3 linked regions of the Homo sapiens genome follow. The protein of the gene in region 1 purifies or fractionates together with the protein of each later gene. This does not show direct contact. Each region holds a gene or a part of one and is shown in the gene's direction. Other genes may lie near its edges. The genes, in order: FOXJ2, HOXC13 and POU2F2.

Evidence for each region.
Region 2: the proteins of FOXJ2 (region 1) and HOXC13 purify together in Homo sapiens (affinity purification with mass spectrometry; one large-scale study listed by BioGRID and IntAct). This does not show direct contact.
Region 3: the proteins of FOXJ2 (region 1) and POU2F2 purify together in Homo sapiens (affinity purification with mass spectrometry; one large-scale study listed by BioGRID and IntAct). This does not show direct contact.

The regions. Positions count from the first base shown.
Region 1 is NC_000012.12:8,046,192-8,049,839, forward strand, and holds part of FOXJ2 (forkhead box protein J2), read left to right. Parts: intron 1-1,690; coding exon 1,691-2,098; intron 2,099-2,505; coding exon 2,506-2,607; intron 2,608-3,170; coding exon 3,171-3,380; intron 3,381-3,648.
Region 2 is NC_000012.12:53,937,219-53,940,966, forward strand, and holds the start of HOXC13 (homeobox protein Hox-C13), read left to right. Parts: upstream 1-1,612; 5' UTR 1,613-1,688; coding exon 1,689-2,424; exon of another isoform or gene 2,425-2,425; intron 2,426-3,748. UniProt on the Homo sapiens protein: Transcription factor which plays a role in hair follicle differentiation. Regulates FOXQ1 expression and that of other hair-specific genes.
Region 3 is NC_000019.10:42,097,928-42,101,575, reverse strand, and holds part of POU2F2 (POU domain, class 2, transcription factor 2), read left to right. Parts: intron 1-1,754; coding exon 1,755-1,860; intron 1,861-1,957; coding exon 1,958-2,049; intron 2,050-3,648. UniProt on the Homo sapiens protein: Transcription factor that specifically binds to the octamer motif (5'-ATTTGCAT-3'). Regulates IL6 expression in B cells with POU2AF1. Regulates transcription in a number of tissues in addition to activating immunoglobulin gene expression.

The DNA.
Region 1 (3,648 bases):
GCAGCAGCAGTACCCTCTCCTGAAGAATCCCTGCGTTTCATTGTGAGAACAGTTTCTTTTTAGTGTATTTACATTTATGTTACTTTTATTGTGAAAAATTGCAAACAGATGCAAAAGTGTGGAGAAAAATATAATAAACCCCTGTGTTCCATCCCCCAACTTTAAGTTATCAGTATTTTATTAGGCTTGTTTTGTTTACCACTGAGCCTTCTAAAAATTGGAGTAATTTAATGGAATTCACATATACCATGTCATTCCACTCATAAATACAACTTCGATATACACCTCTAAATGATGACTTTCTTCTAGTTATCTACCATGACATTATCATTCCTAACATAATTGATAATACATCCTTAATATCAGCTAGTATCTTGTCCGTGCACATTTTCCTAATTATCATATGAGAATGACTTAAAGTTTTTACTGGGAGGCCCCTTGAGAGAACATCTGGTTCGGCCCTCTGCAATATCTGTGTGTTCGTTTTTTAAATAACTTAGAGACAGTGGTGAAGTTGATTTCAGGTGAGGCATTAGACCTTCTCATTCTGTGCAGTAGCCCTATGTTGGCAGCAGGGGCTGAATGGAATGATAAAAACTGGTTAGGAGTCACTTTTTGGAAAACTTATATTCATTTTCATGAATTTCTTCTTGTATATCACAGGGGATCAATTCCTAGAGTAGTGTCCAAGACTGTAGCATTTGCTCAAAAAATGAATCCGACTCAGGTGGTTGGTTGATTGGAGGAGGGAACATGAGAAACTGTCAGAAATAAAGTAAAAAATTAGATTGGGTGAGGACAGCCTAGAGTTCACTCAAGTTTTATTGTGACCGAAAGCCCCTAGTCTCAGACTTTTGTTCTTCCCAGCCTGTCTGCTTGAGAAATAACTCCATCCTGTCTCTGCTCCTTACCCAAGCTACATTTGTTTATAGAGGGTACAGGAATGACTTGGCAGTAGCAGAGTGTAGAGAAAATAAGGGGCCGGTCGTGGTGTCTCATGCCTGTAATCCCAGCACTTTGGAAGGCCAAAGTGGGCGGATCACCTGAAGTCAGGAGCTCGAGACCAGCCTCAACATGGAGAAACCCCGTCTCTACTAAAAATACAAAATTAGCCAGGCGTGGTGGTACACACCTGTAGTCTCAGCTACTCGGGAGGCTGAGGCAGGAGAATTGCTTGAACCTGGGAGGCGGAGGTTGCGGTGAGCCGAGATCGCACCATTGCACTCCAGCCTGGGCAACAAGAGCGAAACTCTGTCTCAAAAAACAAAAAACGGAAGGAAGAGGAGATAGTAGACAACTGATGGCTTTGTTTTGTTTCTGATTTACTTTTTTTTTTTTCCCTAAACACTAGATGACCAGGGATGGTTTCCTTTTTAAAGTTCACCTGCTGGGAAACTGTGATTTCAGGCCTTCAGCCAAATCCCTAAAAAGTAGCATTAAATGCTACACACTGACCTTTTTAGTAAGATTTCAGTGGTCTCCACACTGTCAGGGCCCTCCTCTAACCTAAGTGCCTTCCTGTCTCTTGTACCTGCCAGGAGGGCCACAGGGATCTTTGCTGCCCTAGAATGTTCTTACCCTTTTAACTCCACAGTTTTAGTCTGAGGCTTCCCATCTCAACCCAGGGAAAATCCCATTTTGTGAAAAATGCATTGCTTAAGTCACTTGCCTGCTTCCTCCCCACCTGCAGGCTTTTCTTCTCTCCTGGGGGACATCCCACCCTCGAACAACTACTACATGTATCAGCAGCAGCAGCCACCGCCACCTCAACAGCAGCAGCAGCAGCAGCAGCCGCCACAGCCACCTCCCCAGCAGTCCCAGCCACAGCAGCAGCAGGCACCTGCCCAGGGCCCCTCAGCTGTAGGGGGTGCTCCTCCACTGCACACCCCAAGCACAGATGGTTGTACCCCACCAGGGGGAAAGCAAGCTGGGGCGGAAGGCTATGGGCCTCCCCCTGTAATGGCCATGCATCCACCCCCGCTGCAGCATGGAGGCTACCACCCTCATCAGCACCATCCCCACTCCCACCCTGCCCAGCAGCCACCACCTCCACAGCCACAGGCACAAGGCCAGGCTCCCATCAACAACACTGGCTTTGGTGAGTAAGGAGGGTGCACAGTGATCTAGAGGAGGGTGGGGTGATGTCCTTGTCCTAACACCGGCATGGAGGTGCAGTTAGTTAGGAAGTTAATGATGGGTCTTTTAGGCTTCGCTCCTTCATGTGAGCTAATCTGAACAAAGTTACTACTTAGAGCTCTGTCTTATAGAATTCCTGGATCAATTGAGATTGTTTTACATATTCTCCTGACTATGAGCCTGGCTGTACTTAAAGCGTAGCTAGCTTTTCCAGTCCTAAACTCCCAGGGAGGGAGAGTCCAAAACTTGGAAATGCAACTGCTAATCTGTATAGATGCAAGAATCTTGCATGTAGTCAGCCTGGTATCAGTTGACTGCTGTCTTACACTTCACTCTATCTTATTATCCACTTTCCCCTCCTCTTTACAGCCTTTCCTTCTGACTGGTGCTCTAATATTGACTCTTTAAAGGAAAGCTTCAAGATGGTGAATCGGCTCAATTGGTCCAGCATTGAGCAGTCACAATTCTCAGGTTAGTGATCAAAGGACGAAGGAAGAGAGGGATACACTGTAAGGGAAAACCCAGTAGAAACTGGAACCGGAAGGGGGTGGTTAAATGAAGTTGCAGAAATGAGGATTTCATTGTTTTTCTTTCTTTTTACACAAGATGGATCATATTTACATTATTTTCAAATTAACTCAAATTAATCTTGTCTTAACTGAAAATGTGGCAGTGAATAATCCTAGTCCATTCTGTCTTTGGGAGGGAGAAGGCCCTCAGGAATTTAGAGACCGTGGACCACGATTTTGTAGTTTTGTCACCACTCACTGACAGTGTGACCTTGGCTGAGTCACTCAGTCACATTGAAAGTTTATCTTACTCATCAGTAAGATGGCAATTATAAGAATTTGGTAAGGGATCAAATAGAATGAGAGTTTGAAAATGCAGAGCTCTGAAAGATATAAATTGTTATTGTTAGTGCCCGTTATCAGTGGGGGTGATTGATGGTGTGTTTGGAACAGTGAGATAGGGCGGGGTCTGATAGGGGCTTCCTACCTCTGCAAGGTTTGCATTGCTTGCTTCCCTCTTTGTAGAACTGATGGAGAGTCTACGACAGGCAGAGCAGAAGAACTGGACCCTCGACCAGCATCACATTGCCAATCTGTGTGACTCCCTCAACCACTTCCTTACTCAGACTGGTCACGTGCCCCCTCAAGGGGGTACCCACCGCCCACCAGCCCCTGCCCGTATTGCTGACTCCTGTGCCCTCACCAGTGGCAAACAGGAGTCAGCCATGAGCCAAGGTACTGCACCAAGCCAGTTGCCATGGAGGTGGAGACTATGTTGAAAAGGAAGCATAGGAGAAAGGCAAAAGAGAACTGAGAGAAAGGATTTTATGGGGCAGTGACCCAAATTGAGCAGTGGAACTAGTTTATCAGTTGACTGAATATCTGTTGAATCAGTGAAGTCCTAAACTGAAAAATGCAAAAGAAATAGACTGTATGATTCCTTTTTAGACCTCAGTTTGGGAGATCAGAATTGTTTAAGAAAAGGGAGGAGATTTGTTAGAGA
Region 2 (3,748 bases), about 46 Mb from region 1:
GGAGGTGGCCCGAAGGGGTTTCTGCAGACCTGTCCATTTGCTCTCCACTTGAGGGGTGCAGTAGGTCTGGCTGAGCGAGGCGCTGCTCTGTGGCCATGGTCTGTGCGCTGGCTGCACACGAGCACTCAGCATTTAAAACCTGTGGCAGAGGGAGGAAAGAAGGAAACGCTGCAGCCCCTTTCCCCTCTTATTTTTCTCTCTTCATTACGATTTCTCAGGGAGGTCCTGTGCTGAAAGGGAACTTGACTCAATTCCACGGAGATGCTCCCTTAGAAAGGGGTGACTCTATTGAGGCTCCTGACAAGTTGGGAGATTGGGAGGAAAGAAGGGAGAGCTTTTGAAGAATCAGTAAGTTGGTGTTAATTTTTTCTTTGAAATAGGGGGCAGTTTTAGATCATGAAACTATTCCTCACTAAAAGAGGGTGACCTAAGAAAGCCGTGGGAGCTCCATTGCGGGTATTCAAACTGGGGACTGTGTCATGTGGCTTAACCCAGGCCCCTGAGGGCAGAGGTGGGTTCTGCAGGGTCCCCCAGAGTGGCGCCAGAGAGAGGTCCCTCCAAAGGTGTAGCACTGAATCTCCCCCATTTTCCACGTTTTCTTTTGTATACCTATAGAAAGCGCGCTCTCCTTCGCATCCAGGGCTTTTAGCTTTCCCAGGCTGAATCTTGCGCCCCCACCACCCGCATTTCTTTGAAAAACCTCACTCTGAGATTTTTTATTTCTATTACATATTGAAATATCAGTCTATTCTATTGCTTTTATTTCCCTCGTTTTATTCTTTCTCCATTTATTGCCGAGTATATTCCATTGCCTCTCGATCCCCTGCCCCAGGTGATGAATTCTGTATTTGGGGGTTGTCACACCCCTCTCCGCTTGAGAAAAATCCAGCGAGGTAAAGCAGAGTGTCCTTTTCAGACATCTAGAGTTTTGGGGAATGTGGCTGAAGGTAGGAAATGGAAACACAATCCCGGCATCAAAGGCTCGCTACGCAGCATCGGGTTCTTTCCAGCCGCGAGCGGAGGCGAGCTGCCAGGGCCAGAGCGCTCCTGACTGTTTTCTATTATCTTCATTTATTATTTTTTAAAACCTGGTTTCTTCCCCACCCTTAGCTTCAAGCCCCAATCCAGAGACTTCAGCAGTCACAGTGATCGGCTTGGCGGTAGGGGGTCTGTCTCTCCGGTGCACATCCTATGCCTAGGCGGAGGCGCCCAGTTACAGCGCTCTCCTCCCTACACCCCTTTGCGTCGGCCAAATTCAGCCTCCCCCCCCTCCCTCTCCCTCCCTGGGGCCTGCCGGGGGCGTCTCCCTGTCCCTTTAAATCTCCCAGCTCCCGCCTCCTTTGGCCTACCTGAGATCCAATCAGCACAGACTTTTTCCCTTTCGCCCCGCCCCACCTCGAGGGGAGGGAACCCCAGGAGACCTGGCCGGGGCATCACGTGCGCAGAGCGGGTCACGTGGGCGCGGGAGGGGTGCTGAGAGGTGGAGAGCGGGAGCCGGCGGATTTCTTAATGAAGTGTCTCCGCATGCGTAGAGGGAATGTAGGGAGGGAGGTGGAAGCACTAGGAGGAGGGGAGGGGTGGAGAGAAAAGAGGGGAGGGATGGGGGGAGGGGAAACAGGAGCGAGGTGTCTCCCTAGCTCGCTGCCTCTGGCAAGTGGAGTTTTTAAAAAGCTCCAGCAGATCATGTCATGACGACTTCGCTGCTCCTGCATCCACGCTGGCCGGAGAGCCTTATGTACGTCTATGAGGACAGCGCGGCGGAGAGCGGCATCGGCGGCGGCGGCGGAGGAGGAGGCGGCGGCACGGGCGGAGCGGGGGGTGGCTGCAGCGGAGCGAGCCCCGGCAAAGCCCCGAGCATGGATGGTCTGGGCAGCAGCTGCCCGGCCAGCCACTGCCGCGACCTGCTTCCGCACCCCGTGCTGGGCCGCCCGCCGGCTCCCCTGGGCGCCCCTCAGGGCGCCGTCTATACGGACATCCCGGCCCCGGAGGCGGCGCGCCAGTGTGCCCCGCCGCCCGCACCCCCCACCTCGTCCAGCGCCACCCTGGGCTACGGCTACCCCTTCGGGGGCAGCTACTACGGCTGCCGCCTGTCGCACAACGTGAACCTGCAGCAGAAGCCTTGCGCCTACCACCCGGGCGATAAATACCCGGAGCCGTCGGGCGCCCTGCCCGGTGACGACCTGTCCTCTAGGGCCAAGGAGTTCGCCTTCTACCCCAGCTTCGCCAGCTCCTACCAGGCGATGCCCGGCTACCTGGACGTGTCGGTGGTGCCCGGGATCAGCGGGCACCCGGAGCCGCGTCACGACGCCCTCATCCCCGTCGAAGGCTACCAGCACTGGGCTCTCTCCAATGGCTGGGACAGTCAGGTGTACTGCTCCAAGGAGCAGTCGCAGTCCGCCCACCTCTGGAAGTCTCCCTTCCCAGGTAAGGAAGGGACCCGAGCGCCGCCGCCGCCGGGGACCCCTCCCCGCCCTGCCTGCCCCGGGGCTCCGCGCCCCAACCACCCCCGCCGTCTGGCCCCGGCGCGCCCGCTCGGCTGGGCTGCCTATGGAGCCGGCCGGGCGAGCTGCACTGAGGAATGCGCCGGGGAAGAAATCTGCTCCGACACGTTCTCTGTAGCTGCCCGGCCGAGAATGAAGCAATCACAGGCGCCCGAAAGCCGGGCCGCCGGCTCTGCTCTGTCCGGTAGCTCGCCTCCGCCTCCCCTTGCAGGCTCCAGCCTCCCGCCGGGCTCTTGGCCCCTAAACCTGCTTCCGGCAAGGGATGGGGGCGGGGTGGGCCTATAGTGCCTTGGAATCCAGGACAAAACCCCCAACCCACCGAATAACTGGGGAGGGCGGAGAATAAGAACCCCCACTTTCTTTGACAGAATTCGCAGGATCGTTCAGGCACTAGACAGTATTTTTTAAATAGGGGACTAATTTGCTGGGGTCTACAGAAATGTGAGATTTATTTTTTTCCTTTCCTGACTTATTTTAAAAATCTGGCCACGAATTTCCTGATTGTTGAGGGAACAGAAGATCCAAAATCTCTGGAGAGGGAGTGGAGAGGAGGCTAGAATCCCTCCCCAGCATTGTAAAGTTTTCCTTGCCTCTTTGGTATATTGAGCTCAAACCTATAGACATTTCCACTGCCAACTCCCCCATATGTGGTCGAGAAAGAGAGTTAGTTATTGGTGCCCCAGACACAGAAAGAAGGGCGTGGGGATGAGAAATGGGAGAGGAAGACCTGTTCAAGACCTGTTCAGGGGCTTCTGGAGTCCAGACCCAGGCTGGGGACCCCTTGGTCTTGTCTGGCTAAGGATGGGAAGGGAGAATTCATTCCCCTCTTGTTCCGTCTCCAGTTGAAGAGAGAAAGGCTCCTGTAAATCCCACCGCTCTCCTTGCGGACAAGACCAGTCCCAGGTTTCCCAAAACCACACCAAGAGCTTTGGATCCTGCCTTGTGCTGAGAAATCAGGATTCCGGTCTAGGGAGTCCAGCATTTGAGTCTGTTCTCCCTGTAAGCAGAGCTCAGTGGGAGAGCGTTCTCCCTTCTGATACCTACAGAGGTCTTTGGGGGTGGGGGGCCCAGGGCAGCCACAGATGTCTCCCGACAGTGCCCAGCTCCCCGACCAGCTCCACGTGCCAAGCTCAGGGATGTTTTCCTTGGAAAGCATAGACCCAAAGACCTCCTAAGGGTGGGCCTGAAATTCCTCTGCATACGGAATTGGAAGAAGAGGTAGGTGGTTTAAAAAAAAATACTGAGTG
Region 3 (3,648 bases), on another chromosome or scaffold:
GCTGTCAGCAGGGTTGTGAGGGAAGGATCTGTCCCTTCTGAGGGCTGTGATGGAGAGATCTGTTCCAGGCCTCTCTCCTTGGCTTGCACGTGGCTGTCTTTTCCCTGTGTCTCTTCACATCATCTTCCCGTTATCCATGTCTATGTCCAAATTTGCCCTTTTTATAAGGACACAAGTCATATAGGATTAGAGCCCACCCTAATGACCTCATTTTAACTTGATCATCTGCCAAAGACCCTATCTCCAAATAGGGTTAATCTCTGAGGTTCTGGGGGTTAGGATTCCAACTTACCTTTTTGGGGGGTGGCAGGGAGTGGGGGGAGACACTGCAACCTATAACAGTGCTAAAGAGCTTCCCGGAGTGGTTGTACTAATTTACACTATTTGCTGGAGTATTTTAAAGCTAATTCCAGACATGAAATCATTTGCCTTGGGAGTGTTTTTTGTTTGTTTGTTTTGTTGTGTTTTTTGAGACAGAGTCTTGCTCTGTCACCCAGGCTGCAGTGCAGAGACACAGTGGCATGATCTCAGCTCATTGCAATCTCCGCCTCCGGGTTCAAGCGATTCTCCTGCCTCAGCCTCCTGAGTAGCTGGGACTACAAGTGTGTGCCACCATGCCTGGCTAATTGTTTGTATTTTTAGTAGAGACAGGGTTTCACTGTGTTAGCCAGGATGGTCTCGATCTCCTGACCTCGTGATCCGCCTGGCTCGGCCTCCCAAATTGCTGGGATTACAGGTGTGAGCCACCGTGCCCAGCCAGGAGTGTTTTTAAAGGAGGAAAGACCTGGTCTGGTTTACAATTTTATTATTTATTTATTTATTTTTGAGACAGAGTCTTGCTCTGTCACCCAGGTTGGAGTGAAGGGGCGTGATCTCGGCTCACTGCAACCTATGCCTCCTAGGTTCAAGCAATTCTCCTGCATCAGCCTCCGGAGTAGCTGGGACTACAGGCGTGTACCACCACACCTGGCTAATTTTGTATTTTTAGTAGAGACGAGATTTTGCCATGTTGGCCAGGCTGGTGTTAAACGCCTGGCCTCAGGTGTGTCCGCCTGCCTCAGCCTCCCAAATTGCTGGGATTACAGGCATGAGTCACCACACCCGGCCTGGCTTACATTTTTAAATGATTCTATTTGTTCTGCGGAAATGTTAAAACAAGGAAAATATTTCATCAAGAAAGAAAGGGTAGCCGGGTTCGGTGACTCACGCCTGTAATCCCAGCACTTTGGGAGGCCAAGGCGGACAGATCACAAGGTCAGGAGATTGAGACCATCCTGGCTATCATGGTGAAACTGTCTCTACTAAAAATACAAAAAATTAGCTGGGAGTGGTGGCGGGCACCTGTAGTCCCAGCTACTTGGGAGGCTGAGGTAGGAGAATGGCGTGAACCCAGGAGGCGGAGATTTCAGTGAGCCGAGATCACACCACTGCACTCCAGCCTGGGCGACAGAGCGAGACTCAAAAAAAAAAAAAAAAAAAAAAAAAAAAAAGAAAGAAAGGGTAAATAAAGAGTGAGCCCTCCCAGGACTGCCCAGTTGGGACTCTCTGGTACCCCATGGTAGAGAGAAGCCTCTGGGTGCCCTTAGCTCAGGGATGCCATTCAGAGACCGAGTGGACGATCCCTCACTGCCCAGTGCCAGATCGCCATGTGGAGCAGCTTCCTGGTTTCAGCCCCTCAAGGTTCAGGTGATGCAGAGAGGATGAAACCCAGCCAGGACTCAGGCTATCTTTCTGTCCACCCCACTCCCTGCCAGGACATACAGCAGCTCCTCCAGCTCCAGCAGCTGGTGCTTGTGCCAGGCCACCACCTCCAGCCACCTGCTCAGTTCCTGCTACCGCAGGCCCAGCAGAGCCAGCCAGGTAAGGCCCCCACCCCAGATGGCCTCCCTGACGCCTCCACAGAACTTCCTCACCTTCCCCTCCCCCTCACCCTGTGTATTTCCCCTTGTCTTTCCAGGCCTGCTACCGACACCAAATCTATTCCAGCTACCTCAGCAAACCCAGGGAGCTCTTCTGACCTCCCAGCCCCGGGCCGGGCTTCCCACACAGGTGAGACTGTCCATTGAGTGCACCAGGCCAGGCCAGCAGCAAGGCCTGCTGAAAGCTGGGTAAACGGGGGTGGGGGATGAGTGAGAGTCTCCTTTCCATTTGACCCAGCCACACTCTGCCAGTGATTTGCTGTGAGACCTCAGGCAAGCCCATCTCCCTGTCTGGGTCAGCCTCTTCCTCTATAGAATGAGGGGAGCTGGCCCAGACAAGTGGTTCTTAACCCTTTCTAGTACATGAGCTCCTTTGAGAATATGATGAAAGATTTAGATCTGATCCCCATTCCCCCAAAATGCTCATGTGTAAAAACACACAAAATTGCAAGGGGCTGCAAGCCTTTAGGCTGCAAATGCCTCGGGCCTCTTCCAGCACTGCAACGGAGGATTCTCTGAACAAGGCATTCGTTAGGTGATTATTTCACATCCACTTCCCAGACTGGAGACTGAAAACAAGGCCCACAGGTGTCTTTTATTTGGTCATTGTCAACTAAATTCCCAGAAAGCACCACATTTCCAGCTCCTCTTGATAAACCAGAAAATCTGGCAGGGCTGTACCTGTGTCTACGTGGTGGCTTGGCGCAGTGAGCAGTTGGCCTGGCCACTGGCAGGAGCAGAGGCCCCTTAGAGAGGGTGCCAGCTCTCCAGGCCACCTTGGCACCTGGACCCCGAGGCCTTTCTTTCAGTTTGCTGCCTGAGTTCTAGACTTTAATGATAATTTTCACTACCTTTTATGAATTTCAAAGTTTTTTTCTACCCATTTTTTATAGCCCTTTAAAAAAATATATGTGAACTATTTCAGAAGGACTGACTGAAGAGTTAGAGACTAATACAGGTCTTAACTGCAGTTCTGAAATCCCAAATGCTCAGAAAGTCAAGTTGTTCTTCCACCATTGGCATGAGAACTCATTTGACTGCAAAACCTGCCCTGCCATGATATAAGCCAGTGTATGACTTTTCTTTGTCCCTCTTGGTATGGCATTTTTGCTGCTGCAAAACTGTTACTGTATCTGATTAAGGAGTAATATTCTTGACCCTAGTGGGGGTGGGGGCCGGGCCACATTATCTATGATATACATCCTATGTAGGCTTTCTTTCTTTTTGTTTTTTTTTTTTTTTTTGAGATGGAGTCTCGCTCTGTTGCCCAGGCTGGAGTGCATTGGCTCAATATCAGTTCACTGCACCCTCTGCCTCCCAGGTTCAAGCGATTCTCCTACCTCAGCCTCCCAAGTAGCTGGGATTACAAGCATGCGCCACCACACCCAGCTAATTTTTGTATTTTTAATAGAGATGGGGTTTCACCATGTTGGCCAGGCTGGTCTCGAACTCCTGACTTCAGGTGATCCACCTGCCTCGGCCTCCTAAAGTGCTCGGATTACAGGCATGAGCCACTGTGCCTGGCTGCCTATGTAGGTTTTCTGAAAACTGAAACAGGCACGGTGGTGCATGCCTATAGTCTCAGCTACTTGTGAGCCTGAGGCAAGAGGATCACTTGAGCCCAGGAGTTTGAGGCCAGCCTGGGCAACATAGCAAGACTGGTCTCTAAAACAACAACAACAACAAAACCTGAGAGGGGTGAGAGTGGGTGGATGATGAGAAATTACTT